Homo sapiens: one gene and its partners. Each later gene encodes a partner of the first gene's protein in a complex. Each region holds a gene or a part of one and is shown in the gene's direction. Other genes may lie near its edges.

What was found.
Region 2: SNRPD2 (region 1) and CWC22 share a complex: the UniProt entries of both Homo sapiens proteins name them as parts of the minor spliceosome.
Region 3: SNRPD2 (region 1) and CRIPT share a complex: the UniProt entries of both Homo sapiens proteins name them as parts of the minor spliceosome.
Region 4: SNRPD2 (region 1) and SNRNP200 share a complex: the UniProt entries of both Homo sapiens proteins name them as parts of the U4/U6-U5 tri-snRNP complex.

Annotation. Positions count from the first base shown.
Region 1 is NC_000019.10:45,688,931-45,696,343, reverse strand, and holds the start of SNRPD2 (small nuclear ribonucleoprotein Sm D2), read left to right. Parts: upstream 1-4,390; 5' UTR 4,391-4,455; coding exon 4,456-4,457; intron 4,458-5,676; exon of another isoform or gene 5,677-5,772; intron 5,773-6,996; exon of another isoform or gene 6,997-7,111; intron 7,112-7,413. Other genes in the region: QPCTL (glutaminyl-peptide cyclotransferase-like protein), read right to left, coding at 626-907, 2,788-2,931, 3,434-3,640. UniProt on the Homo sapiens protein: Plays a role in pre-mRNA splicing as a core component of the spliceosomal U1, U2, U4 and U5 small nuclear ribonucleoproteins (snRNPs), the building blocks of the spliceosome.
Region 2 is NC_000002.12:179,997,292-180,004,315, reverse strand, and holds part of CWC22 (pre-mRNA-splicing factor CWC22 homolog), read left to right. Parts: intron 1-4,409; exon of another isoform or gene 4,410-4,585; intron 4,586-7,024. UniProt on the Homo sapiens protein: Required for pre-mRNA splicing as component of the spliceosome. As a component of the minor spliceosome, involved in the splicing of U12-type introns in pre-mRNAs. Promotes exon-junction complex (EJC) assembly.
Region 3 is NC_000002.12:46,620,213-46,627,236, forward strand, and holds part of CRIPT (cysteine-rich PDZ-binding protein), read left to right. Parts: intron 1-3,551; coding exon 3,552-3,655; intron 3,656-3,950; coding exon 3,951-4,015; 3' UTR 4,016-7,024. UniProt on the Homo sapiens protein: As a component of the minor spliceosome, involved in the splicing of U12-type introns in pre-mRNAs. Involved in the cytoskeletal anchoring of DLG4 in excitatory synapses.
Region 4 is NC_000002.12:96,281,535-96,288,558, reverse strand, and holds part of SNRNP200 (U5 small nuclear ribonucleoprotein 200 kDa helicase), read left to right. Parts: intron 1-589; coding exon 590-696; intron 697-1,001; coding exon 1,002-1,120; intron 1,121-1,398; coding exon 1,399-1,553; intron 1,554-1,681; coding exon 1,682-1,871; intron 1,872-2,074; coding exon 2,075-2,248; intron 2,249-3,218; coding exon 3,219-3,379; intron 3,380-3,973; coding exon 3,974-4,201; intron 4,202-4,554; coding exon 4,555-4,746; intron 4,747-4,845; coding exon 4,846-5,024; intron 5,025-5,206; coding exon 5,207-5,358; intron 5,359-6,636; coding exon 6,637-6,745; intron 6,746-7,024. UniProt on the Homo sapiens protein: Catalyzes the ATP-dependent unwinding of U4/U6 RNA duplices, an essential step in the assembly of a catalytically active spliceosome. Plays a role in pre-mRNA splicing as a core component of precatalytic, catalytic and postcatalytic spliceosomal complexes.

The DNA of each region.
Region 1 (7,413 bases):
TGGGATTCCAAGTGTGAGCCACGGAGCCTGGCCAGAAAAGCACATTCTATCCAAAGCAAACAGCAAGTGCAGATGCCCTGAGGTGGGAGCAAGCTCTGCGGGTTTGAGGAACCCAGAGGAGGTGGGGGTGGCTACAGCAGAGTGAGCAAGAGGTGAGGGGTGGGAGATGAGGCTGGAGAGGTAACAGGGCACAGCTCGTGGGCCAATATAAGGACTCTGGATTATGGCTGGAATGAGGCGGGAGCCCTGGGAGGGTTTGGGGGAGAGGAAAGAGAATCTGACATCTAGAAGGTAAAAAGATCCCTGTGATGACCAGGCGCGGTGGCTCACGCCTGTAATCCCAGCACTTTGAGAGGCCGAGGTGGGCAGATCACCTGAGGTTGGGAGGAGAATTGCTTGAACCCAGTAGGCAGAGGTTGCGGGGAGCCAAGATCTCGCCATGTGCACTCCATCCTGGGGAACAAGAGCGAAACTCCGTCTCAAAAAAAAAAAAAAGATCCCTGTGGCTCTGTGCGTGGAGTAGAGTGGGAAGACGAGAGGGATGACAAATGTCCAGGCAAGGGAGGGTGGGGGCTTGGGAAAAGGTGGAGGTAGCCCACTACCCTCCCCGACTCCTGCTCCTCACCTGTTTTTTGGCCCTGCTCAGCTCCAGGTCAAGTGCTTGGGCCAGCTCCAGCAGCAGGGCACAGGGCACAGCCGAATCCGTGGCCCCTACAAAGGGGGTCGATCCGGGTGGGAAGAGCTTCGAGTCATAATGGCAGGCAAGGGTGAGGTGACGGGCAGCCCTTGGGTCCAGTGTGGCCACCACATTGCCAAAGTCCACTGGCCCCAGGGGTGTTGAGGCTGTGAAGGGATCCAGCTCCACGTGCCAACCTGCTGTCAGGGACCGCAGCGTGGCCTCCAGGAACTAGCGGCAAGAGAGAGGTGGGAGGGTGGACGGGGACTGGGGAGGAGGTGGGGAGAAGGGCCACGTGACCTGAGCCATGCAGAGCAGATGGGTTGACACTAAAGCCCCACTCTGATTGAATGGATTTCTTTCTTTCTTTCTTTTTTTTTTTGAGATGGAGTCTTGCTCTGTCACCCAGGCTGGAGTGCAGTGGCTTGATCTTGGCTCACTGCAACCTCTGCCTCCTGGCTTCAAGTGATTCTCCTGACTCAGCCTCCTGAGTAGCTGGGGTTACAGGCGCCCCCTACAACGCCTGGCTATTTTTTGTATTTTTAGTAGAGATGGGGTTTCACAATGTTGGCCAGCCTGGTATTCGAACTCCTGACCTCAAGTGATCTGCCTGCTTCAGCATCCCAAAGTGTTGGGATTACAGATGTGAGCCACTGTGCCCAGCCCCCTACTCTGATTAAAATCATTCCCTTGACAGTGCTGGTGAGTACCTACTGGGTGCCAGATGTTGGGGAGACCCCACCTCTTGAAGCCAGCAAGACTCATCACAGCTTACCCTTAAATAGCTCTCACTGTGTGCTAAGCCCTCTTCTAGGAACCATTTAGGGGAGGGACTGCCAATACATGACCCCATTTTACAGATGAGGAAATGGGCTCAGAGAGGTTAAGAAACTAGTCCAGGCCGGGCGCGGTGGCTCACGCCTGTAATCCCAGCACTTTGGGAGGCTGAGGTGGGCGGATCATAAGGTCAGGAGTTTGAGACCAGCCTGGCCAATATGGTGAAACCCCGTCTCACTAAAAATACAAAAAATTAGCCAGGCATGGTGGTGCACACCTGTAATCCCAGCTACTCAGGAGGCTGAAGCATGAGATTTGCTTGAACCTGGGAGGTGGAGGTTGCAGTGAGCCGAGATCGCGCCACTGCACTCCAACCCAGGCGACAGTGTGAGACTCCATCTCAAAATAAAATAAAATAAAATAAAATAAAAAAGAAACCAGTCCAAGGTCACAATCTAAGTGGATGAGGTAGCATTGGGACTCAGGCAGTATTTAAGTGACTTTTTTTTTTTGAGATGGAGTCTCGCTCTGTCACCCATGCTGGGGTGCAGTGGCGCAATCTCAGCTCACTGCAGTCTCCGCCTCCTGGGTTCAAGTGATTCTCGTGCCTCAGCCTCCCAAGTAGCTGGGACTACGGGTACCCACCACCACGCCTGGCTAATTTTGTATTTTTAGTAGAGATGAGGTTTCACCATGTTGGCCAGGCTGGTCTCAAACTCCTGATCTCGAGGGATCTGCCTGTCTCGGCCTCCCAAAGTGCTGGGATTAGAGGTGTGAACCACTGCGCCTGGCCTTTAAATGACTCTTCATGCTTTCTGGAAGACAACAGATACATTACAGCACCAGCTCGGAGCCAACCTGTTTGGGTTCAACTCTAGGTCTATGATTTTCTAAACATTGGGTCTCACTAGGTTGACTAGGCTAGTCTCAAACTTCTCAGGTGATTCTTCCACCTTGGCTTCCCAAAGTGCTGGGATTACAGGCATGAGCCACTGCACCCGGCTAAGGTCTACTACTTATTATCTGTAGGATTTGTGCAATGTGTATAACCTCTCTGAGCCTCAGTTTCCCCATCTGCATAATGAAGATCATATTGGTACCCACCTTATAGGGCTGTCTGTTGCCTATGCCTAGCACACAGTAAGCTTTTGGTGGGGGCATTAAGGGGGGCAGTACAGCCTGGTGGTTTGTTACCAGCATGGAGTCTAGAGTCCGATTAACTCCAGTCAGAGCCCCAGTTCCTCCTCTTAGCTTCTTTGGGATCTTGAACAGGATTCTTATTTCCCATTCCCTGGAGGGCTAGGGGGTCAGGGACTGGAGGTGGGTCCCTTTACCTTTCTGACTTGGAGATTTCCCGGGCTGCCCGGGGTTCGCACAACCAGCAGGGGGCGCAGATAAGTGCTCCAGAGACGCTGTGGATCCAGTTGTCCCACCACCCTCCGCAGCCGGGCTTCGGGGAGGCTTCCGATCAATGGGACCTTGGGAAGGAGGTGGGATAGGGAAGGGAAGAATGAGAGCAACCCCCCCATTTCAACCCTACCCCGGGCGCCGTCACCCGCGAGGAGCCCCGGGTTCTCTTCCTAATCTGCCGCCTCCAGCATCGGAGACTTCTAGGATAAATCCAAGGCTCAGGAAAAGTCCTTCCAAGACCATCCGGTCCAGCCTACCTCAAACTTGATGGGGAAATCGAGGCCCAGTGAGAGAGAGGGGAGATGGAGGAAGGGACTCTTCCAAATAGTTGACTAAAGGCGTAGAACCCTGAACCCCCCCGTCTTACTATTTCAGACCTTTCCTCTTAAAAGGAAGCTACTGTTGCAGAACCAGCCCGAAGCCTTATTCCTTTGGTAAGGGTCATGCGCTCAGATGACGAAGACGGTGGCATCTGCGGTTAGGGCCGTACGCTAAAGCCACGTCAACCCTGGGTAACAGCGGGGAGGGAATGAGGGTCCCCGCGGTGCCCGGGTCCCCGCCCAGCCTCACCCGCAGCTCCCGGCCCAGCGGCAGCTCCTCAGTCCTGCGGTGCCAGCCGCTCCAAATGGTGTAGAACGCCGAGCCCACGGCCAGCGCCAGCAACAGAGGCAAGAGCCGAACCCGCGGTAGCAGGCGGCGCTTCGGCGGCAAGAGTGGCTCCATGAGGCCACGTTCCCCCAGCCGCAGGCGGGGTCGCCCGCGGCCCCCGGAACGCATGGCCGCTTTGCCCTGAAACCTGTACCAGACCACGGATTGAGTTTAGGCCCAGCCAAGTTCCTCCCCATGGAATCGGTGGGCCAATAAGCAACAGCTGCGGCTGCACCAGCCCACCCCACAGCGAGCAGCGAAACCAATAAGAACTACGGTCCTGAGGACACGCCTCCCAGCCTCCCTTAGGTATTGGGGTTGGTTCCCCTGAGAATGGCACGACCCAAATGGGAGCGCAAGAGAAGTAGGCTCCGCCTTAGCGGAGGAGGGAAAGCCAATGAACAGCGTTTGATCATGGAAAATATTCGATCTCCCGGGCGCAGGTCCATGCCCCTTCCGGATGTAGGCAGGGGATTGGTGGCGCAGGGTCGGAAAGATCAGTAGATACGTCAGTAACGCGTCCCAGAGGGAAGAGGGGCGGTGCCTGTCTCCGAAGCGAGGAGCGGATTGGCTTCACGGAGGCCGCGCCCCCGAAGTCACGGCCGGCGGGCATTTGGAAATAGCTTGTCATTTCCCTCCTTCAACCTGTACCATTCTTCAAGAAACGGTTTGAATCAGACTGCCTTTCCTTTTGTCTTCATTGTCATAAACATCTGCCCCCGTGTGGTTCTGACTGGCCGCGAACCCCTACCCGAAGCTTTTATTCCATCATTGTGCACCGTTGGTGGGGAATGCTGTGGCAACAGGCCACGCCTCCACTTACTGGTTGGCTTTGCGCAGGCGCCAACGGAAGTGGGTCGCAGGAAGAGGAAGTCCCGCCTCTCTCTCCTCAGGCAGCAGCAACGCGGAGGAAACGGGAGTGAACGGAGAGCGTAGTGACCATCATGTGAGGCCGGGCTAGGCTTAGGCGGCGGGAATGAGGTTGAGGGTGGATATTTGACCGATTGAGTGTGGGAAGGGTTGAGCAGAGCGGGGGGGGCAGGGGCAGATGTTTTAGGGATGCAGCGTCCTGCTTTTCTCCTGATGAGTTTGAGAACGGGCGTGGGGCCTTTGACGCATCGTGACTTCGGGAGAGGGGACAGCTTTATCAGATAACGCCCTGGGCTGGGCGCGGGGGCTCATTCCTGTGATCCCAGCACTTTAGTAGGCCAAGGCGGAGCATCGCTGGAACACAGGAGTTCGAGACTAGCCTAGGCAACATAGCGAGACCCCCGTCTCTACAAAAAAAAAAAAAAATTTAATTATGAAAAACATGTTTTAAACGATAACGGGAGTGGTCCTAGATAATTAGTCCTATTGAAATGAATGTTAAGGGGCAGCGATTTTACGAATACTGGGGGAGGCCGAGCGCGGTGGCTCAGGTTTGTAAATCCCAGCACTTTGGGAGGCCGAGGCGGGCGGATCACCTGAGGTCAGGAGTTTGAGACCAGCCTGGCCATTGTGGTGAAACCCCGTCTCTAACAAAAATACAAAAATTAGCCGGCCGTAGTGGCGGGCGCCTGTAATTGCAGCTATTCGGGAGGCTGAGGCCGGAGGATCGCTTGAACCCGGGAGGCGGAGGTTGCAGTGAGCCGAGATTGCGCCACTGCACTTCCAGCCTGAGCGACAGAGTAAGACTCCATCTCAAAACGAAACAAAAGAAATAAAACGAATAATGGGGGAGGGAAGTTAGGACTTTTAGAAATAATTATTTGAAATAAGGGACTTATCTTGATCATTTGAGCTGGAGACGGGTGCGTTTTCGACTTGATTCACAACTTACACGGATAACGAACGAGTCATTGACATGATTTTGCGCATTTATTAGTGCAGCAGATATTACATTGAATGCTTATGTATCAGACACTGCTTAAGCTACATAGGATACATCAGTGAATGAAACCTCTAGTCCCCAAGGGAAAAGAAAAATCTTTTTCTCTTTTTCTTTTTTTTTTTTTTTTTGAGACGGAGCCTTGCTCTGTTGCTCAGGCTGTAGTGCAATGGTGCGATCTCAGCTCACTGCAACCTCCGCCGCCTGAGTTGAAGCGATTCTCCTGCCTCAGCCTCCCGAGTAGCTAGGATTACAGGCACCCACCACCATGCCCAGCTAACTTTCGTATTTTTAGTAGAGACCAGGTTTCACCATGTTGGCCAAGCTGGTCTCAAACTCCTGACCTCAAATGATCCACCCGCCTCGACCTTCCAAAGTGCTGGGATTACAGGTGTGAGCCACCGTGTCTGGTCGGGGTTTTACTTTCTACACTGAGATGGGGGGAGGATGGGAGGGTTTTCTTTTGTTTTGTTTGTTTGAGATGGAGTCTCGCTCTGTCACCCAGATTGGAGTGTAGTAGCACGAGCTCTGTCTCCTGGGTTCAAGCGATCTTCCTGCCTCAGCCTTCAAAGTAGCTAGGATTACAAGCATGCGCCACCATGCCCAGCTAATTTTTTTTTTTTTTTTTTTTTTGAGACGGAGTCTCGCTGTCGCCCAGGCTGGCGTGCAGTGGCGCAATCTCGGCTCACTGCAGCCTCCGCCCCCTGGGGTTCACGCCATTCTCCTGCCTCAGCCTCCCGAGTAGCTGGGACTACAGGCGCCCGCCACCTCGCCCGGCTAATTTTTTGTATTTTCAGTAGAGACGGGGTTTCACCGTGTTAGCCAGGATGGTCTCGATCTCCTGACCTCGTGATCCGCCCGCCTCGGCCTCCCAAAGTGCTGGGATTACAGGCGTGAGCCACCGCGCCCGGCCTAATTTTTTTTTTGAGATGGAGTCTCACTCTGTAGCCCAAGCTGGAGTGCAGTGGCGCAATCTTGGCTCACTGCAACCTTCGCTGCTGGGGCTCAAGCGTTTCTGCTGCCTCAGCCTCCCAAGTAGCTGGGACTAGAGGGATGCGCCACCACACCTGGTTAATTTGTTTGCATTTTTAGAAGAGACAGGGTTTCACCATCTTGCCCTGGGTGGTCTCGAACTCCTGAGCTCAGGCGATCCACCTCGCGTCGGCCTCCCAAAGTGCTGGGATTACAGGCGTGAGCCATCGCATCTGGCCTAATTTTTGTATTTTCTAATTTGTATTTATTTATTTTTTGAGACAAGAGTCTCGCTCTGTCACCCAGGCTGGAGTGCAGTGGCATGATCTCACTTCACTGCAACCTCCGACTCTCTGAGTTCAAGCAATTCTTCTACTTTAACCTCCCGAGTAGCTGAGATTACAGGCGTGCACCACCACGCCTGGCTAATTTTCTGTTGGTTGTTTTTTTTATTGTTGTTTTGTTTTGTTTTGTTTTGTATTTTTAGTAGAAATGGGGTTTCACCATGTTGGCCAGGCTGGTCTCGAACTCCTCACATCAAGTGATCAATCCACCTTGACCTCCTAAAGTGCTAGGATTACAGGCATGAGCCACTGTACCCATACCCTGGGAGGGTTTTGAAGAGTGACATGTTATGATTTAGGTTTTAGCACAACCCCCTCAGACCACTCTGTGGAGAACAGACTGTCAGGGAACGTGGGTGGAGGCAGAGAGACCAGAAAGATTCCAGGACAGAGATGACAGAGGCTTAGGCCATGGTAAGAAACGGCCATTTCCTACAGATTTCATGTAGGATGTGAGGGAAAAAGAGGAATCAAGTTGACAAAAGAGTTTTTGCCCAGAGAACTAGAAGGATGGAGTTACCATCAAAGCAGATGGGGAACGCTGTAGATAGGGTAGGCTTGGGTGGTTGGGTGATCTGGATCCCGACCTGAGACATGCAGAGTTGAAAATGTCTGGCTGGGCACGGTGGCTCACGCCTATAATCTCAGCACTTTGGGAGGTCGAGGCGGGTGGATCACAAGGTCAAGAAATCAAGACCATCCTGGCCAACATGGTG
Region 2 (7,024 bases), on another chromosome or scaffold:
CCACCCAAAAGACAACACAGTGATGCATTTTGTATTTCAGATGCCCATGCCTTAACTTGAATAATATTTTCAATTTATTGTCCACTTGTATTTAAATGGAATTTTGTACTACTCATCATATCCCTAACTTGGTCATGGTTTGTTCATGGTGCCTGGAGCTAGTCCGAGAAAGAAGTGGCTATTGGTAATACATTCATGCATCCCTCTTATAACTTTGAAGCCTCCCTTGTCGAATTTCCCTACTTTTCTGTTTATCTGAGCATGGGAGGGTGGTGGAACAATAAAGCCAGAGAGCATACTAGTTTCAGCAAACTCCCAGACTTAAACTTTTTCTCAGTATGTACATTTCCCAAGTGGACATTGGAAGAGACATTTGAATACCTACAACAAAGTACAAACTTTAAGCATGGATTATAGCTAGCCTTTATATAATAAAGTTAATAAGTCTTTCCTAGTGAACAGATACCAAAAACGGGGTATGGGCTGCCTTGGCCTTGGGACATATTAACTCCTGTGGAATGGGTTAGCTAGTGGGGAGGAGGAACTCGGTGACTCATGTTTAACCTGTCTTTCAGCCTAACTTATAAATGGGTGGAGCTAGACAGAGTTCAGCACTTCCACCTGAAAAGTTACCCTGTGAGTCCTTCCTGAAATAGTTTGTCAGGATAGCTTTATTTTAGACCTGGCTACAGGAGCCTCTGTAGTAGAATGCAGTGCTTGCATGTCTAGGGGCTAAATTTCTCTGTGGAGGCCAACACCTCCAAGTTTTCTTTAAACCAGAATGTGGTTTACTACGTGGCTCTCTAATTAAATAACCAGGTGACTTTCAAAGCTGTGCCTTGAAAATTGGCAGAATGTGTTCACCCATATACTTAATTAGGCAAGCTGAGGAACAGATTTGGGACAGGAGAGAGTGGTTTGAATGTGTGATGAAGGCATATGGCATATTCAGTAATTAGGGTTGATTTTGTAAGTTAAAAGAACTGCACCTTCAGGGACAGATTTCCTTTTGCAGTGCCTGCAAAGGAACTAGTATTTTTTTCATCTCACTCAATGAGGAAGTGTTTTCAAGCTGTTCCACAGGTTAACATGGAGTGAAGACTAATAGGGGGTGGCATCTGATAGTGTTGTCTTGATGTACTAAGACTTGGAAATCTTAGTATTTCCAAGAAGTAGGAGTTAATAGGTGAGACAACGCTGCTGTTGTATTCCTTGATGAACAAGTTGACAAAATGGCATTATAGGAAGTTCTATGTAGGCAGAAATTGGAGTAATCAGCAGAAATCTACACTCCCCGTTTTTTATTTAATTTTAGACTTGGAACTTATTAAGTAGCAGACACTGTCCTAGGTTCTGGATATGTAGCAGTGACCAAGAACCTTGAGGATCCAGTGTACTCATACAGAGCCTTTCATAGTTTAGCTTAATGAGTCTCTCATGTTCCATCTTATTCATGTTCAGTTTTTCATGTACACCTTGGAATCCCCAAATTCTCTGTCTCTGAGTCTTTACACATGCTTATCGTATTTCCTGAATGACCTTTTCCCCTTTCGATATGGATAATTCCTACTTGTTCTTTAAGACTCAGCTTCAAGACCTACTTCTTTCTGTATGTCCCAAACCCTCTTTTCCAGTAACACTTGTTTATGACATTGTTGTAGCACTTAGACATTTCTTCTTTACCCAAGGACAGAGTCCTCAATGCCTTGTCTGTTGTGTAATGTATATATCTCCCCACCGTACATAGACACTGCCTTTAGTAAAGACCATGACTGTACTTTTTCTCTTAGCTTCATACTTCCTCATTTTCTCTGTAAGCATTTTTCTTTTTTCATCTTCTTTTACTATTGTTTTGAGATGGGATCTCACTATGTTGCCCAGGCTGGGACTCTAGGCACATGCCACTGCACCCAGCTTTTCTCAGCCACTGAATATAAATATCAATTATGGCCCTAGCCTAAATGGAACCTTCCCCCAGCCTCCTATATACAGTGACAGAATGAGGGGGAAACATGGGCAGATTTGGTAGAATCAGTAGGATTTGGTGACTTACAGGGAGTAAGGAAAAGGAAATTGCCACCTGGGAAGCTTTGTAAGTCATATCTTAGAAGAAGAGCTGGTTTAAGATGGGGAGAAGGAAATAATTAGTTCCACTGTGGATTTCTTTAGTTCAGATGGCCTTTGGCACATCCACTTAGAGGTTTCCTGTAGCAAATTGGACATCATGATTTGGAACTCTAGAGAAGATTGGCTGGAGTAAAAAGTTGTTTTCGCATGTTAATTAAAGCTATGGGGATGGAGATGATCTTCCACAGATAATATGGAGAAAGAAAAGATAAGGACTATTCATTCATCCATTTAACAAATATGTATTGAGAGCCTCTAGTGTTGGGAATGTAGCAATGAACAAAACATAAATTCATGAGCAAATACTAAACTCTCAGGCATAGTAAATATTAAAGGGATGGACAAATGAAGGTGGTGTCCCTGTAAGTTGACAAGTGAGAACTTCAAGAAGGGGATTAGGTGCCAAATGCTAGAGCAATGTCCCATAAAAGAAGGAAGCTGCCCCTGGATTTAGCAACAAGAAAAAAAGTTACTGTGTAACATTGGTAAGTGCTGTGGAGTAGTGGGAAGGGAAAGCTGAATTACAGTGGGTAGGAGAGGTTAAGAATTAGAGACATCAGGCTGGACATGGTGGCTCACTCCTGGAATCCCAGCACTTTGGGAGGCCCAGGTGGGCAGATCACTTGAGGTCAGGAGTTTGAGACCAGCCTGGCCAACATGGCGAAACCCCATCTCTACTAAAAATACACAAAATTAGCTGGGCATGGTGGTGCGCACCTGTAATCCCAGCTATTCAGGAGGAGGCTGAGGCATGAGAATCACTTGAACCTGGGTGGTGGAGGCTGTGATGAGCTGAGATCATGCCACTGCGCTCCAGCCTGGGTGACAGTCAGACTCTGTCTCAAGAAAAAAAAAAAAGAAAAAAAAATTAGAGGCATCAAGTGTGAACTTACATATCACAAAATAGCTGTGTAGGGATGAGACAGTAAAACTAGAGAGGGGACAGGATAAAGGGAATTTGCCCCATAAATATCATAATTTATTTTTAAATGAATCATTAAAAAGTTCAACATGTAGAATTTTTCTTTAAAACCAACTTAAATAGAAATCAATACTGTACTGTAAATCAAGAGACAGCTTATTGAAATGTTGAAACTAACAAAAATAGACAAATTTCTATTCTCATAGATCCTGCATTCTGTTGAAAAGAAGCACATTGGGGAATCTTCCTATGCGTAAAAAAATTAATAGTATTTCCAAATGATTGGATCACTTAACTCTTTATTTGGTTACTTAAACAGCCTAAAATAGACTAGCTTCATGATACAGGAAATGAATGGGGGTAATACTACCTCCCAATTTATAATGTGAGGTTTTCAGTATAGATAATGGTGTCACTGGGTTCATTAAAATGTCTTTTTTTTTTTTCACTCCTCTGTGTCTTACTGTCTTAAAGTGTCTGAAAATTTGGGCTGTCTACTCTCCACACAGAGTTGCAGACCAGTCAAATGCTTTTATATTACTTACTTCTTACAGAAAACAATGTCCAGAACTGTCTGCACAACTTCTAGCCCTGTACTTGAACCTGGCAATCTAGTCATTCAAATGGTTATGAGTCAGCACACCTGGCATATGCAATGACTATGAAGCAAAAGGGAGGACAGCTCTGCAACTCTTTATTTGTAATTTTTGGAGCCAGAAGTGTTTTGATTTCAGTATCTTGTAGATTTTAGAAAACTGCAGTGCCTATACTACATATTAAGTAATCCCCCCTTTTGGGGTCTGGAGTAACATCCTCTAGTCAAAACACATTAATATTTCTGCACTGTATCAAGTCACATTAAGTATCAAGTCAGTATATGCTAAGTTTTGCTCTCAAGTGAGTTGCCACATGCTTAAGAATAATCTTTGTATTTTCAGAGCTTTACAGATTTTAGAACTGCAGATAAAGGATTTTCAACCTGTACCTGGTGACTTTTCTAGAAAGAGACAGGAGTATTTTGACCCTTTTATTTTCTTGAAATTGTGATTCTATGCTGACATCAAATTATAATTTTTTGGCCTTATGAGGTATATCATGAGGCAATTTTTTCACTAATATGTAAATTAAGACAGGAAAAAATAGCAAGAAACGGTTTTTCTAAAACAAGTAAGTTTTCCTTCAGTACAGATATGGAAAGTACATAGCAATCTTGTTTTATATTGTTCAAGAGCGAAGCCAATCTGTTACTCCTATTTGTTCCCTGAAAAGGAAAATCCGTTCCTTGGGGGCTTGGCTGTTGTTGAGGTATTTTCTGAGAATTCCGTTCCGTTATGTCCCCTCCCATTATATTTTGGCATTTAGAATAATTTTAAGACAGTTTTTATTTTGTATTGTATAATATTACCACTTTCCCCATTGGGCAACTAAGGTTTTTGTTTTGGTTTTTGTTTTTGTTTTAAATATGAACTCTGTTAAAATGTTTGAAATTCACCAAACCTGTTTTTACTATTTAGAAGCCAGAGGAGCCAACTAAAGGTAACTCACTATTGATTCCCCTTTCCTTTAGCAATTTTATGACAATATGTTTCAGCAAGTTCCTCTAACTTGGACTGAGAACACCGAAGTGACAATGGTAGAAGTGTTTTGCTACGGAAATCATCTGGAAAGCAGTGCATTTCAGCCATTAGTTGAATATTTTCTCATTTTCTTAATTTTTGAGATGATTGCAGAATTCACAGTTTTCTGCTTAACAGTCTGACGTACTTATATATGTTATTAAATATTTTGCTTTCTAATGCTTGATGAAACTGAGAGAAAAACTATCTTTTTTTTAATAGTGCTCTCGTGAATACTATATCTCCTATTGGAAAATATCCTTTCTTCGGGAGAACAGGTGTGGTTTTGTTGAGTTGCTTTCTTGTGAGAAGGGGAAAGAAATTTAATAATTCACCATAAAATTCACATAGTGATGCTTAGAAGAGCAGAGAGTGCTATAAACTCTAGATAAATTGCTCTCATTTCAGGAATTTCCGATTAGTGTAAGTATTAGCATGCATATGTTGAACTCAGAATTTCCGAACAGGCATATTCTGCATAAATCTGGACAATGACAATACTTTATTCATTTTTTGTTAGAACTATGATAGCAGTCTACTTTACCATATTGTCATTTTCACACTTACGTTGTGAGACATGGAAATGTAACAGATTGTACTTTATTGCCAGAAATTATTTGCTGATGAAAGTTGAAAGGGGAAAGATGATATCGATCAGAAGAAAACTCACTAAATTGAAATATGTAAATTGAAATATGTAAATTTAAATAGAAATAAAATGCACAGAAATTGCTTGTTCTGAAATGTGTAAGTAGGTTGGGAAGAGGAACCGGGTGTAAGACTCCAGGAGAGTAGCAAAGGAAAACGCTAAATCTTGTGCAATGGGGTCAAGTGATTTTTTATTTTTATTTTTTGCTCATAGTATACCTAGTCACAGTGAATTCTAGGTATGCTAAATTAAATAAAAAGGAATCCTTAAAATTACTATGAATGTTTGAAAAGAAGTAGTGCTTCATTATATTAAATCACAGTCTTTGCTATCTGGAACTTTGAACGAATGGATCAGTTTAGGCTAGGATAATTTTCTGTATAGTAGAGTCTGTACTTGTTTACATTTTATAATTTACCATTTTGGCTTCAATTCGTTAGTGTTGGCATTTTCATTGGGACAAAATATATGGCTTTGGCATCAGATAAACCTGGCTTTGAAGTTTAGCTTCTGCCATTTACTAGGTGTAATTTACGTGGACAAATTGCTTGAATTCTCTGTACTTCAGTTGTTTCACTGAAAAACATGGCTAAAAAAAAAATCACCAGAACAGGGTAATTATGAGGATTGAGGAAGATTGTATAAGTGATTATAAATTGTGGCCATAATTTCTCAAGTTTAAAAAACACTTCTTACCTATGAATTATTAAGAATTAATACATTTGGATTTTCTGTTTCCCTTTCCAATTGATTTACAACTAAGTTCTTCACTATAAAGTAGGTAGGCTGTGGGGTCTCTATATTCTGCCTAAGTGGCTCATGGTTTGAGAACAAATTGAGAACCAAAGTTTCTTATGTAAAATTGAAAAGCTGAGGAGACTTGGGGAAAAGTTGGATTTTGGAGTTACCTTGGGAATACTTTCATAAAACAAGTATGCATGGGTTTCCCCTACACTTTCTGCCCATTTTCTGATTTTGTAAGTCAGAGGTGGGCCCCAATATATGTACAAGTAATTCTCCTGTCATGCATTTTTTCTTGATTCAAGTTGTGTTTAATATAGTGACATCAAACTAGTTTTACACTGTTAAGTAGTGATTTAAAACTGACCTGTAGGAAAAAAGTCCAACCTGTCACCTTGCTTGAGTGGCTTAGTGTTTTGTTTATCATTATAGATTTGTTTCTTATACCTAGAATGTAAGCTTCACATGAACAGATTTTGTTACGGTAGTTCATTGCTGCCTATCCAGTGCCTAGAAAGATGCTGGGCAAATAACAGAAGTGCTGTATTATTTGTTGGGGAACAAATGTACGTATAAATAACACTGGGTTTAAAGGTAATAAAGGATATGTTAGAAATGTTAAATGGTTGTGCTAGTAGAGGTAGGGAAAAAAATACCAATATCTTTGAGCAAAAGTAAGTCGAGTAAAGTTTTGAGTTTTATGGCTCTCTATACCTTTATAGCCATTAAAACAGGAGCTTTGGAAGGAGTCATGCAATTTGGTTTCAACAGAGTCATCTTGTTGAGGCAAATGGTCCTAAAATCCAGCTGAGATAAGGGTTATCCCTACAGGGCTCTCATCCTCAGGTGAGGGAGGGGGTAGCCTCTGTTTTAAATATTTTTTAAAATTCTATTTTAATTTGTAGCCTTTTAAGCTACATTTTGTACTTTTTTTTTTTAGTCATTACTCTAAGGAACAGTATATATATA
Region 3 (7,024 bases), on another chromosome or scaffold:
CCAAGGCAGACAGATTATCTGAGCCCAGGAGTTTGAGAGCAGCCTGGGCAACATGTGAAACCCTGTCCTACAAAGGACAGAAAAATTAACTGGGTGTGGCAGCACGCGCCTGTAGTCCCAGCTACTCAGGAGGCAGACGTGGGAGGATCACTTGATCCCAGGGAGGTCAAGGCTGCAGTGAGCCAGGATCGCACTACTGATCTCCAGCCTGGGTTGACAGAGTGAGAGTCTCTTTCAGAAAAAAAATTTCGTGAACCCTTTCATCTGCCATCTGATTTCTTTGCTCCCCTTCACATCAGAAGTTTTCCAAAGTCTTACCTAGACACTTTTTCAGTGTCCTTAAGTTCCTTTCCCTCCTTCAGCCACTCTAGTCATGTGTTATCCCCACAACAGCCCTGAAACTGTTCTTGTCGAGATCACAAGTGACCTTTTAGAGTGACTTCAATCTACTGGCTTTAAATTCAAGCTATATGTTATATATATATATATGTAATAATATTATTATATATATATTATAATATTATTATATATATATAACTCCCAAATTTATACCTCTGGCCTGACTTCTCTGAGCTCTAAACGTATATCTAGCAGTTTATCTGACATACCTCATTTAATGTCTAACAGGCCACTTCTTTTTCCTTCCGTCTTCTCATCATAGTAGCACCACTCTCTAATCCACTTGTTCAAGCCTAAAAGCTAGAATTCCTCACTGAGTCCTCCCTTTCCCCTACTTCCCCTATCCATCAGCAAGTTCTTTGGATCTACCTCCAAAACGTAAAATGTAACCTGAAACCACCTGCTTCTGTACATCTCACTGCTATTACCCTTTTCCAAACCACTGTTATTTCTTACTTGGAACTGTAATAACTATTGAACTATCTTCCTGCTTCTCTAGTTTCCCGCAGTTGTCTCATAGTAACGAGAGTGATCCTTTACAAAGTTCCTTTGCTTAAAATCCGCCACTGGTTTTCTTTTTCACATAGAATAAAATTTAAGCCCCCTACCATGTTCTTACAAGGTCCTCCTTAATATGACCCCTCCCACCTCTCCGGCTTCGTATTGTACCACACTGCTCCTCATTCATCATATGCTGTCTTTATTAGTTCTGCCAAGCCCACTCCCATCCAAAGAGATTTGTACTTGCTGCTGTCTCCTAGGAGTCTTCCGTTAGAGCTTACGTATCTGCCTCCTTCTTGCTGTTTGGGTCTCAGCTTCAGAGAAGTTTCCCTAATCAGCATCTAAACTAATCTCTTCTTTCCTTTTCCTCATCTCTGCCTTAGTATCCTGTTAGAATTTTCTCTATAATACTACTATTTGAAAACCTTGCTTGTTTTATTAGATTGTCTGTTTCCTTACTTACTGTTTACCTCTTCTCACTACAATATTATCTGATGAGGGCAAGGGCTTTGCCTATCATGTTCATCTTTGGTATTTAGAACAGTAAATACCATGTAATATTAAGCACTCAGTATATATTTGCTGAATGAATAAATACCTGTTTTCTGATGTCATCCCAAGGATTAGAAATAACAACAATAAAGCCTTAACTACATACAGTGCCTAGCACATAATAGCATCTTTAATGCAGATTCACACTATATATTATTGACTGACTTATTGAGGTCTTTGAGAACCATTCTGTTTTTATTGACTGAGCTATTATTTGTACAGATTTTATGCTTTTATATACTTCCAGTTCCTTTATGCTCTCAAACTTACTCTGATATCATTAAAAAGTAGCTGTAACTCTTGGGTACTCTCTTACTTTGGAAAATGTACTACAGTATTGCTTGGAATCTATGGTACTGTTATTTATAAGATGCATTGTTACTTTAAGAAAAAACTCTGCCAGTTTTAAGATTTCCAAGGTTAGGCCGGGTGCGGTGGCTCACGCCTGTAATCCCAGCACTTTGGGAGGCCGAGGCAGGCGGATCACAAGGTCAGGAGATCGAGACCATCCTGGCTAACATGGTGAAACCCTGTCTCTACTAAAAATACAAAAAAATTAGCCGGGCGTGGTGGCGGTCACCTGTAATCCCAGCTACTCGGGAGGCTGAGGCAGGAGAATGGCATGAACCTACGAGGCAGAGCTTGCAGTGAGCCGAGATTGCGCCACTGCATTCCAGCCTGGGCGACAGAGCGAGACTCCGTCTCAAAAAAAAAAAAAAAAGATTTCCAAGGTTACAATGTGTATTTTTGAATAATAAAATATGGTTTTAAGAAAAAATAGCCTCTGGAAATACATGTCCAAACAAATTGAACTTATTGAAAGGAAGAAGAGTACCTATCTTTTGTGGGGAGTAAAGTGATATTCTCAGCTGGGCGCAGTGGTTCACGCCTGTGATCCCAGCACTTTGGGAGGCCAACGCAGGCGGATCTCCTGAGGTTGGGAGTTCGAGACCAGCCTGACCAACATGGAGAAACCCCATCTCTACTAAAAATACAAAATTAGCCGGGCGTGGTAGCGCATGCCTGTAATCCCAGCTACTTGTGAGGCTGAGACAGGAGAATTGCTTGAACCTGGGAGGCAGAGGTTGCAGTAAGCCAAGATTGCGCCATTGCACTCTAGCCTGGGCGATAGAGTGAGATTCAGTCTCAAAAAAAAAAAAGTGATATTCTCTGTGTTTGGAAAAATTAACCTTTGTAAATGGGCTGTTGTACTATACCCAAGAGAAGACACCAGTTCTAGGACGGTGTTTCGTATCTAGTATATGAGGATCATTACAAAAACTCATTTTGTAAAAATGTTAGGGAAGCACATTTAAATCAGAGTATTATTGCCATTTTAGGGGAAAGTATTTCTTTTTTTCACTCCTGTCACTATAAGATGGCATTTTTATATAGTGGAAGCCCTTTTATCTAAAAGGATTGAGTCAGTTAATTAAAAATGTCAGCTAATGTAAGCAGTCATTAAAAGATACACATACTTTATTTTAAATTAAAGCGCATAACTGTAGATGCATTAATCATTTGGTATTGAAACAAAGCCTTTTGAGCATAAATCGACTGATAAGTGCTTTACATGATTGTCGTCACAAAAATCACAATCAGAATATGTTCAGTTTCTTTAAAGTAGAGCAAAAATTGATGCTTGAGGTGTGGAGTTACTTTCCTAGTGATTTTCCCCCAGTTTTCAACAGTTGTCTTACCCATACCTAATTCAATAGCAATTCATATGATTCCTAGTCATCCTAAAATAGTCACTTAGGTTATATGGAATCAGTCACTCTTTTTGCACCCACATTTCATCAGTTTCCATAATATTTATGTCACACAAATAGAATGACAGATACGACTGATATGAACACGTCAAGAATAAATACTGTACAACTGATTCTTTATAAGTATATATCTCACATGGATGGAGCAGAGCAGAGATGTACAGGCATATCAGACAGTAGCCATCTGGAATAGGCTAAACCCATCAATTGTAGAGGTTGATGGAGGGATGGAGAGCATGGATTAATCCTGTGTGTTGCGTAAGTGGGGTTATTTAAGAGTGTTTCTAGTGTAATATACAATTTTCTCTCTTTAAAAAAAATTTCTAGATTTGATCCATATGGAAAGAATAAGTTCTCCACTTGTAGAATTTGTAAAAGTTCTGTGCACCAACCAGGTTCTCATTACTGCCAGGGCTGTGCCTACAAAAAAGGTAAGTTTCTTTTAATACCGTTTTCTATTCATAAAACCGACTTCATTTGCTGCTAATTTGGTTAACAGAAAAGATGTAGCCTGTCATAAATTCTGTTAGCCAAACACTCTCTTTATCCTAAGGCAAAATAGAACCTAAAACCTGTTTATAATTAAAATTATATATATATATATATTTTTTTTTTCTTTTCTTTTCTTTCCTGATGCTGTTAAATTATGTTTTAAGCTTCAGGATTGACTTAAACCAAACAGTTGGTATTATGATTTGATTGATCACATATCTTCTTTTGTTTCAGGCATCTGTGCGATGTGTGGAAAAAAGGTTTTGGATACCAAAAACTACAAGCAAACATCTGTCTAGATGTATTGATGGAATTTCTGGCTTTCTAAATGATTTTACTTTCTGCCTTGAATTTTCAAGGCATAGATGTCAACTTACAGAATAACATGTTTTAAGATAATTAAGTTTAAACCAGAGAATTTGATTGTTACTCATTTTGCTCTCATGTTCTAAACAGCAACAGTGTAACTAGTCTTTTGTTGTAAATGGTTATTTTCCTTATAAGAATTTTAAGAACTAAGTGGCAAATTCCATGAAAATATTTCTCAGTTCTGTATGCACTTTTATTTAACATTATTCATATAATTCTCCCCCCACCACTTTATTTATAGATACTGCAAAAGTGAGAAGGAGATAATAGATACTTTGCTCTGAATTTGGCATCCAGAGTTAACATTTCTCCCCTCACTCCCTTGCTGGTGTCATAGTTATTAGAATCAGCAGCCTCTTAACTAATTGCGGTTTCATAGGATATATAAATGTTTCAAGCCATTATTGCTGAATGGTTCTTTAGTTATTAACCTAGACCCAAATCAAAGACCAGTTGGATTTATGATATTTTTTATTTGTTCTTGCAGCCAAAGTGCCAGTTTCTTTAATATGTGACCAAGAACACAAGGAGCATCCATATGGCCAAATAAATACACTGAATTTTAGAAAAACATATTACTTTGAATTCAAATTGTCATGAAAACCAGAACAGTGTTTGTCCATGTTGCATGTAATGAAAATAAATCCCTGCTCTGAGAAAAGCTCTTTGAAGCAAAAACCAAACTTTTTTTTTTTTTTTTTTACCTCCTGTCTTGCCCCCTAAAAGAAATAAATAGAGCAAACATCTTGACTCTCCCTTTTTAAAATTTGTTTGTTTTTTTTTTTTTTTTTTGGATACAAGAGCTCACTCTGTTGCCCAGGGTGGAGTGCAGAGGTATCATCAGGCTCTCTGCAGCCTCCATCTGCTGGGCTCAAGCAATTCTTCCCCCTCAGCCTCCTAAGTAGCTGGGGACTACAGGCGTGTGCCACTGTGCTCAGCTAGTTTTTATTTTTAGTAGAGATGAGGACTCACTATGTTGCCCAAGCTGTTCTCGAACTTCTGATCTCAAGCAATCCTCTGGCCTCAGCCTTCCGAAGTGCTGGGATACAGGTGTGAGCCACAGAACTTGGCCTCTCTCTTTTTTTTTTTTTTTTTTTTTTTTTTTTAACACTACAGGTTTCAAATGAATACTTTTCTTATGTTGCCTTCAGAGGTTCAGGACTTCTGCTTTTAAAACCTGCAGCCTACCGTGGGAAACCAAAAAAGCATTCCCTATTTCCAACTGCAGTATGTATAAATACATATCACTACAAAATGTATAGAAAGTGTGATGAGATACATGAATGGCATTTTTATTGGTCATAACATTTTGATGAAAAGCATTTAAAGTTTTAACTTTATAAGGCTTTTCAAAATGTGTTTTTCTGAGATACATTGTTATTTATTCATATCCAGAAAAATTACAAGGATAATACAGAATATAATAAATAATTTATCTGAGAGCAGGAAGTATCCTCTCATGCTTAATCAGTTTGGGGTTTTTAATTATAACACAGGAAACTCATAACAGGACCTGGTCAGAGAGCATCCCAGATCCATTAAAGATTGGATTCATTGACTTGGAGAAAAGTACATTTCTCAGGGATCAGCTAGAATCTGGACTTGCCTAACTCACATTTCATTTTTTTTGTTGTTGTTGTTGTTTTTATAATTTCAACTTTTATTTTAGATGTAGGGGTACATGTGCAGGTGAGTTATATGGGTATATTTTGTGATGCTGAGGTTTGGGGTACAAATGATCCTGTCACCCAGGTAGTGAGCATAGAGTCCAACAGGTGGTTTTTCACCCCTTCCCTCCCCTCTTCCCTCCAGTAGTCCCCTATGTCTGTTCTCATTTTTATGTCCATGTGTACCCATTGCTTAGTTCCCACTGATAAGTGAGAACATGCGGTCTTTGGTTTTCTGTTCCTGTGTATATTCACTATAATGACCTCCAGCTGCATCCATGTTGCTGCAAAAGACATGATTTTCATTCTTTTTTATGGCTGCATAGTATTCTGTGGTGTATATGTACCAATTTTCTTTATCCAGTCCACTATTAATGAGCATCTAGGTTGATTCTGTGTCTTTGCTGTTGTGAATAGTGCTGTGATGAATATGTGAGTGTATGTGTCTTTTTGGTAGAACAATTTATTTTCATTTGGATTTATATCCAGTCATGGGATTGCTGGTTCAAATGGTAGTTCTGTTTTAACTTCTTTGAGAAATCTCCAAACTGCTTTCACAGTGGCTGAACTAATTTGCATTTCCATCAGTGTAGGCGCATTCTACACTGCACTGGCTTCTACAGTGTTGAAGCATTCCGTTTTTCCCACAGCCTCACCAGCATCTGTTATTTTTTTGACTTTTTGATAATAGCCATTCTGACTGGTGTGAGATTGTAACTCATTGTGGTTTTGATTTGCATTTATCTGATTAGTAATGTTGAGCATTTTTTCATGTTTGTTAACCGCTTGTATGTTGTCTTTTGAGAAGTGTCTGTTCAAGTCTTTTGGCATTTTTTTAATGGGTTTTTGTTTGTGTGTGTGTATTTTTGTTTTTGTTTTTGTTTTGAGATGGAGTTTCACTGTTGTCACCCAGGCTAGAGTGCAATGGCACCATCTCAGCTCACTGCAACCTCCACCTCCCGGGTTCAAGCGATTCTCCTGCCCCAGCCTCCTGAGTTGCTGGGATTACAGGTGCCTGCCACCAAGCGTGGCTAATTTTGGTACTTTTAGTAGAGACAGGGTTTCACCATGTTGGCCAGCCTGGTCTCGAATTCCTGACCTCAGGTGATCCACCCATCTCAGCCTCCCAAAGTGCTGGGATTACAGGAGTGAGCCACCACACCTGGCCACGAGTTACTTGGTTTTCGTTTTCTGAATTGTTTTAGTTCCTTATAGATTTTGGACATTAGACCTTTTTCAGATGCACAGTTTGTGAATATTCTCTCCCATTCT
Region 4 (7,024 bases), on another chromosome or scaffold:
GAGGAGTGCTTAGTTCTGCTCTTGCCGGGTAGTTGGTTGGTGCATGTGTGGTACAGCCACTCTGTAGTATACATCTTGAGCACGTGGGAAAGGTAAGACCTTAAGAGGGAATGCTTCGAGGCTCCACGGGCCCTCAGAGAGACAGGAAGAGCCACAGCACGCAGTGTCTGCTTCCCAGCAGCAAAGTGATTTCCCACTGTTGCTGCACAGCTCATAAATAAATCCAAAAATGGCACAGGGTTTTATTAGCTGCTCTTCATCTTTACCTCTAAGAACAGGTCACTGGTACCCTCAACTCTTCCTAGAACTCTAAATGCTAAATGACTCAAAAGCTTTAAAATCATGCAGTGAATGTTAGGTTAAAATGTTGTGCAGTGACCTTGAGCCGCAGCACTCTTCTAATTGTTCCCCATCCGGCAAGCATCTACTATATGGAACGGAGAAAGGCGTAAAGACAGAGGGGACTTTGCCTTTGAGTTAGGGTGGGTGGTTGTGTCAGAGCTGGAGGTAATGAAACCGTGTGTAGAGTGGCTCATGAGGCCTGGGGATAGTCGAGACTTAACAGTGGGAATGCTGCTTCTTTGCTTAGTCGGCTGGCCGGTTGATGCGAGCGATATTTGAAATTGTCCTGAACCGAGGTTGGGCACAGCTTACAGACAAGACCCTGAACCTCTGCAAGATGATCGACAAACGCATGTAAGGACCCAGTGAGCTGGATGCTGGTCACCATGAGTGGGGGTCCCCAACCCAAGGGTCTGATGGGAAAGCCTCAGGGTGCATCTGATCTCCAGACCTGACATCGGAAGTATGACCTGAACCTTGGTGCACATTGAGAAGAGGGAAGGCCCTCTGTGGTGGAGGCCAGGGCTGGCACAGTGTCAGTGTCTGCCTTTAATGACTGTGTTTTGTGTAGTCACTGCTAAACTATTGGAAGCCATGAAGTGGGTGGTTTGTCACATCCCTGCAGAAGGGACCAACAGCTTTGCCTCCTTCCTGGATAGGTGGCAGTCCATGTGTCCTCTGCGCCAGTTCCGGAAACTCCCTGAGGAAGTAGTGAAGAAGATTGAGAAGAAGAATTTCCCCTTTGAGCGTCTGTACGACCTGAATCATAATGAGATTGGTGTGTGGGATGCTCTCGCCCTTGTCCTCACTGCCTGGGTGTCTCTCCCAGTTTGCCTATGTAGTCTTCCTGTTCCTAGGCCTGTGCATTAGTATCCTGTGTTCACTCCCCAAGTCCCACTGAAGTACAGGCTGGCCCTTGGTCTGGGGACTTGGAATCCTGGGCTCCACTGACCATAAAGGGAAGACCCTACCCCTTTCCCACAGTGGCCCTCAGGCCCAGTTTGCAGTATAGTAGGCAGGCTGGGCTGCAGCCTCAGTACTCTCATTTCCTTGTAGGGGAGCTTATCCGCATGCCAAAGATGGGGAAGACCATCCACAAATATGTCCATCTGTTTCCCAAGTTGGAGTTGTCAGTGCACCTGCAGCCTATCACACGCTCCACCCTGAAGGTGGAGCTGACCATCACGCCAGACTTCCAGTGGGATGAAAAGGTGAGGCTTTGCTGGGCAGAGGTGCTGGATTGGAGGTGCTCAGTCTACGTTGCTGGGCCGAGGAGATGGATTGGAGGCACTCAGTCTACGTTGACTCACATTCCTTTTACCCTTGCTCCTGTTGGCAGGTGCATGGTTCATCCGAGGCTTTTTGGATTCTGGTGGAGGATGTGGACAGCGAGGTGATTCTGCACCATGAGTATTTTCTCCTCAAGGCCAAGTACGCCCAGGACGAGCACCTCATTACATTCTTCGTGCCTGTCTTTGAACCGCTGCCCCCTCAGTACTTCATCCGAGTGGTGTCTGACCGCTGGCTCTGTGAGTGTCTCCTCTCCAGAGTCCCCAGGAACAGTCCCTCCAAGGACAGTAGAAGAATGTCTTGCACTTTGTCCCGGGCTTGCCCTTGCTGGGGACAGAGTGATACATATGCTGCCTAGGTTTCCAGTGTTCATGGAGGGGATCTAGAGGCCAGTGAGGGAAAGAGAGCAGTGCTTATATCCTTCCTGTTTCTTTTCTGGCAGCTTGTGAGACCCAGCTGCCTGTCTCCTTCCGGCACCTGATCTTGCCGGAGAAGTACCCCCCTCCAACCGAACTTTTGGACCTGCAGCCCTTGCCCGTGTCTGCTCTGAGAAACAGTGCCTTTGAGAGTCTTTACCAAGATAAATTTCCTTTCTTCAATCCCATCCAGACCCAGGGTAAGTGTTTCCATCCCTCCTCTGGAGGCTTTTGAAGTCACCGGGAGACAGATGTGCTCTGTGGCAGGCAGGGGAGTGGGGGTGCTCAGGCACTTGGGAGGTCTGGGAGCTCCTCAGTGTGACCGCTGGGACCCACCAGGACTTTTTCCTTTGTCAGAAGCCTTTGGTTGCTTTGCTGCTCTGCATGTGTCACTGTGGAGGGGCAATAGAGCAAGGCCTTACATGGCATGGTCATTTCTCGGGCCCAGGAGGCTTAGAGGCCTGCCCCTGGCGCTCAAGTATTGAACCAGAACCATGGGGTGGCACTGAAGCCTCCTCACCACATCATGATAAATAACGGGGACATTCACAGAGCAGGCACTGTTTCCTCAGTCCATGGCTGAGTACATCACCGGTGTTTTCTCTCTTATTCCTCCCATCAAGCCTAAAAGGAATCTCTATTGGAGATACTGCCATTAGTGTTCCTTTTATAGGTGAGGAACTGAGGCATAGAGGGTTCCCCAGTTGAACCAACTGATAAATAGTAGAACTTGGATTTTAATTCAGTCTTGATGCCAGGGATAAGGCTCTTACTTTCTACCTTAGGCTATTTCTAGGAAACGCAGGAGAGTGTTGAAGGGGCAGAGAAAGGGATCCAGTTCCTTTCTGTCCCGCATCCTAGTCCCTGAGAAGCAAAGAAGAATGTGTGGCTTCTTTTGCTTTGCTTTTGTTGTCATCCCACACATCTCCAGGGGACCTGGGCTCTTGATCTTGGCCTCTTCCCCTTTAACTGTTAAGTGGGAGCAGGTAAGGGGGTACAGTAGGGCTGGCCTGGAGTTAGAGGCTTGGATGCCTTAGCTCCTCTGTCTGCACTCCAGAACTGCCTGACTTCATTTCGTATGTTGTCCTTTGTTTTGACAATTGATCCATGTCCCAGTCCGTCTCTTCTTCCTTCTTGATACTTACACTGCTTCTTTCTGTTGGTTTCCAGTGTTTAACACTGTATACAACAGTGACGACAACGTGTTTGTGGGGGCCCCCACGGGCAGCGGGAAGACTATTTGTGCAGAGTTTGCCATCCTGCGAATGCTGCTGCAGAGCTCGGAGGGGCGCTGTGTGTACATCACCCCCATGGAGGCCCTGGCAGAGCAGGTATGACGTGGCGCTGTGTCATGTGAATTTCCCAAGAAGCATTTCATCTGTGATTCCGTATGAAGGCTTTCTAAGCCCTGAAATTTGCAGGGTCATTTCCTCAGTTTGTGTATTAAAGAAAAGCTGCCCCAGCCAAGCGTGGTGGCTCACGCCTGTAATCCCAGCACTTTGGGAGGCCGAGGCGGGCAGATCTCCGGAGATCAGGAGTTCGAGACCAGCCTGGCCAACATGGTGAAACCCTGTCTCTACTAAAAATACAGAAATTAGCTGGGCGTGGTGGTGTGCGCCTGTAATCCCAGCTACTTGGAAGGCTGAGGCAGGAGAATCGCTTGAACCCGGGAGGCGGAGGTTGCAGTGAGCCAAGTTCGCACCACTGCACTCCAGCCTGGGCAACAAGAGCGAGACTTCATCTCAAAAGAAAAAAAAAAAAGAAAAAGCTGCCCCATCGCATCGCATAGAGGCTGCTATGGGATTAGAACGTAGCTTGAGATCTGCAGGTCAACAGGTCTGTTTGGCATCTCAGGTTTTCCTCACATAAGTGAAAGATGCCTGGTATGGCCTAGTGTTGTTCTGCCTCCCTCCTCTGCCCGCCAGGTATACATGGACTGGTACGAGAAGTTCCAGGACAGGCTCAACAAGAAGGTGGTACTCCTGACAGGCGAGACCAGCACAGACCTGAAGCTGCTGGGCAAAGGGAACATTATCATCAGCACCCCTGAGAAGTGGGACATACTTTCCCGGCGATGGAAGCAGCGCAAGAACGTGCAGAACATCAACCTCTTCGTGGTGGATGAGGTCCACCTTATCGGGGGCGAGAATGGGGTATGGCGTGACCTTGCAGCACAGATGAGGGACTGGGACTGACCAAGTGGCCTTGGCATTGGACCTAATGTTTGGGTCTGAGGACGGAGGCTCGGGGCTTCTCCCCAGAGGATTCTACCTGCTGCCCTATTCCAAAGGGACAATGTTAACTTTTTTGGTAGTACTTTAGGAAAACAGTATTGTTTAGTGGAGGTTGGCTGCCGTGGAGGAGGTAGAACCAAACACATGAGAGCTCCTAGTTAGAAGGAAGAATGAGGTCATTTTGAGGCTGTTGGGCTGTTCACAAAGGGGACCTCCAGGCAGAGGATGGGAGCCTTGGCCTGCAGTGACCCTCCCTCCCTCCCTCTTTCCAGCCTGTCTTAGAAGTGATCTGCTCCCGAATGCGCTACATCTCCTCCCAGATTGAGCGGCCCATTCGCATTGTGGCACTCAGCTCTTCGCTCTCCAATGCCAAGGATGTGGCCCACTGGCTGGGCTGCAGTGCCACCTCCACCTTCAACTTCCATCCCAATGTGCGTCCCGTCCCCTTGGAGCTGCACATCCAGGTAGGACCCACTCTCCTCATCCGTCTGTGGGGTGTCACATAGATCCTGAGTGACCCAGGTCTGATAACCTTGGTGTCTTTTCTTCTCCCCGGTCGCCAGGGCTTCAACATCAGCCATACACAAACCCGCCTGCTCTCCATGGCCAAGCCTGTGTACCATGCTATCACCAAGCACTCGCCCAAGAAGCCTGTCATTGTCTTTGTGCCGTCTCGCAAGCAGACCCGCCTCACTGCCATTGACATCCTCACCACCTGTGCAGCAGACATCCAACGGCAGAGGTAGGTGGGGCCTGGCGTCTGGGGGTTGGGGTTAGGTTAAGTGAGGCTGGCCTACTCCAAGGGTGTCCTCTTTATGAGGGTGGGGTTAGCCCATGTTGCTTGGGGCCAGGTTCTGCACAGCTGGCAAAGTGTCTGCCAGGAATTGAACTACTCTGAGCTGAGCCAGTGCCTGTACCGCACAGGTTCTTGCACTGCACCGAGAAGGATCTGATTCCGTACCTGGAGAAGCTAAGTGACAGCACGCTCAAGGAAACGCTGCTAAATGGGGTGGGCTACCTGCATGAGGGGCTCAGCCCCATGGAGCGACGCCTGGTGGAGCAGCTCTTCAGCTCAGGTAAGTCAGGCCACGGAAGGGGAGCATAGCAAGGGTATCACCAAGTGGTGGTGTTAAACTTGAGGGGTGCGGGTGGCAGTGTTTTCTCTACAGCATACCAGAGATTTTCAAAATACTGTTTAGGACTCTTGGCTGTTAACTCATTTGATCCTCCCAAGAACCTCGTGAGGCAGGTGAGACAAACACTATCCCTACTTGCCAGGTGAGAAAACAGGCAGACACATCAGGTTGTGCTATTTCAGAACCTGGTTTTCTAGAGTCCAGGACCTTTGGCCACCAGACCGCTGATTCTCCGTGGATACCAGACTCCCCAAGTGTATTAGTCCGTTCTTGTATTGCTATAAAGAAATACCTGATACTGGGTCATTTATAAAGAAAGGAGGTTTAATTGACTCAGTTCTGCAGGCTGTACATGAAACATGGTGTTATCTGCTTCTGGGAAGGCCTCAGGGAAGGCAAAGGGGAAGCAGGCATCTTATATGGCAGGAGTCAGGACCGAGAGAGTGAGTGGGGAGGTGCTACACACTTTTGAACAACCAGATCTCGTGAGAACTCATTCACTAGACAGTACCAAGGGTGGGTGGTGCTAAACCATTCATGAGAACTCTGCCTCCATTAGCCAGTCATCTCCCACCAGGCCCTTCCTCCAACACTGGAGACTACAGGTCGACGAGATTTGGTGGAGACACAGATCCAAACCGTCTCACCAAGATAGTTAGACTTTAGAGATTAGCACAGAGGAGAGCTCTGATTCTCCCTTGAGCTCACTCTTGCTGGCCACTGTCTCTTGTTGCCCTGTGGCATTTTGTGCAAAGATTTACGTTTTAATACTGTTTATTGGAGCCTCATTGGAGATTCTTCTGCCAGAATCACTTCCTGTCACTCTTTGGCCCTTGAATCTGCCTGTTTGGGGCATGCTTAGAGTGATCTCTGTTTTGCTGGCATGGCTGAGCCAGCCCGTGGCTGCATGAGTGTTAGCACTTTCTGGTCAGAGGAGCAGTCCATCAGCTGTAGTTTTGCCTTGGTGTTCCTGGGCTTTGGGTTCTGTTCTATGATGACTTGTTTTCTCCTGGATAGTCCCAGAGCAAGGCACCAGCAGCGTGGAGCTACCTCATAGCAATGTGTTAGCTCTCATTCATGTTAGACCTTGTTCCTAGCCAGCCTTGCTGTGAGTTCTGAAACATAGCACAGGGTAAGCCACGGCCTGCCCATGAGGCAGTGAGCCTACTTCACCCGGAGACCCCTGCCCTCAGCCTTCCTCTCCCCTCTACTGCTCAGGGGCTATCCAGGTGGTGGTGGCTTCTCGGAGTCTCTGCTGGGGCATGAACGTGGCTGCCCACCTGGTAATCATCATGGATACCCAGTACTACAATGGCAAGATCCACGCGTGAGTACAACTGGTGCTCTGTGTTAGCACAGACCTCCTTCCTAAAATGAATGTGAATCTGCAGATACACAGAAAGTAAGCTAGGATGAAGAAAAGGTGTTAGGGAAGTTAACAGCTGAGATGCCACCAGAGCCAAGTGTTTGAGAGTTTTGTGTCTCAATACCTAGGCTCACATTTGCTTTTTAGTCATTGTGCTTCCTTATTCAGCAGCTGGGAGAGGTAGGAAATTAGAGCCAGGAGGAATGTTTGACGTTACGTCATTAATCTCAGACATCTTGT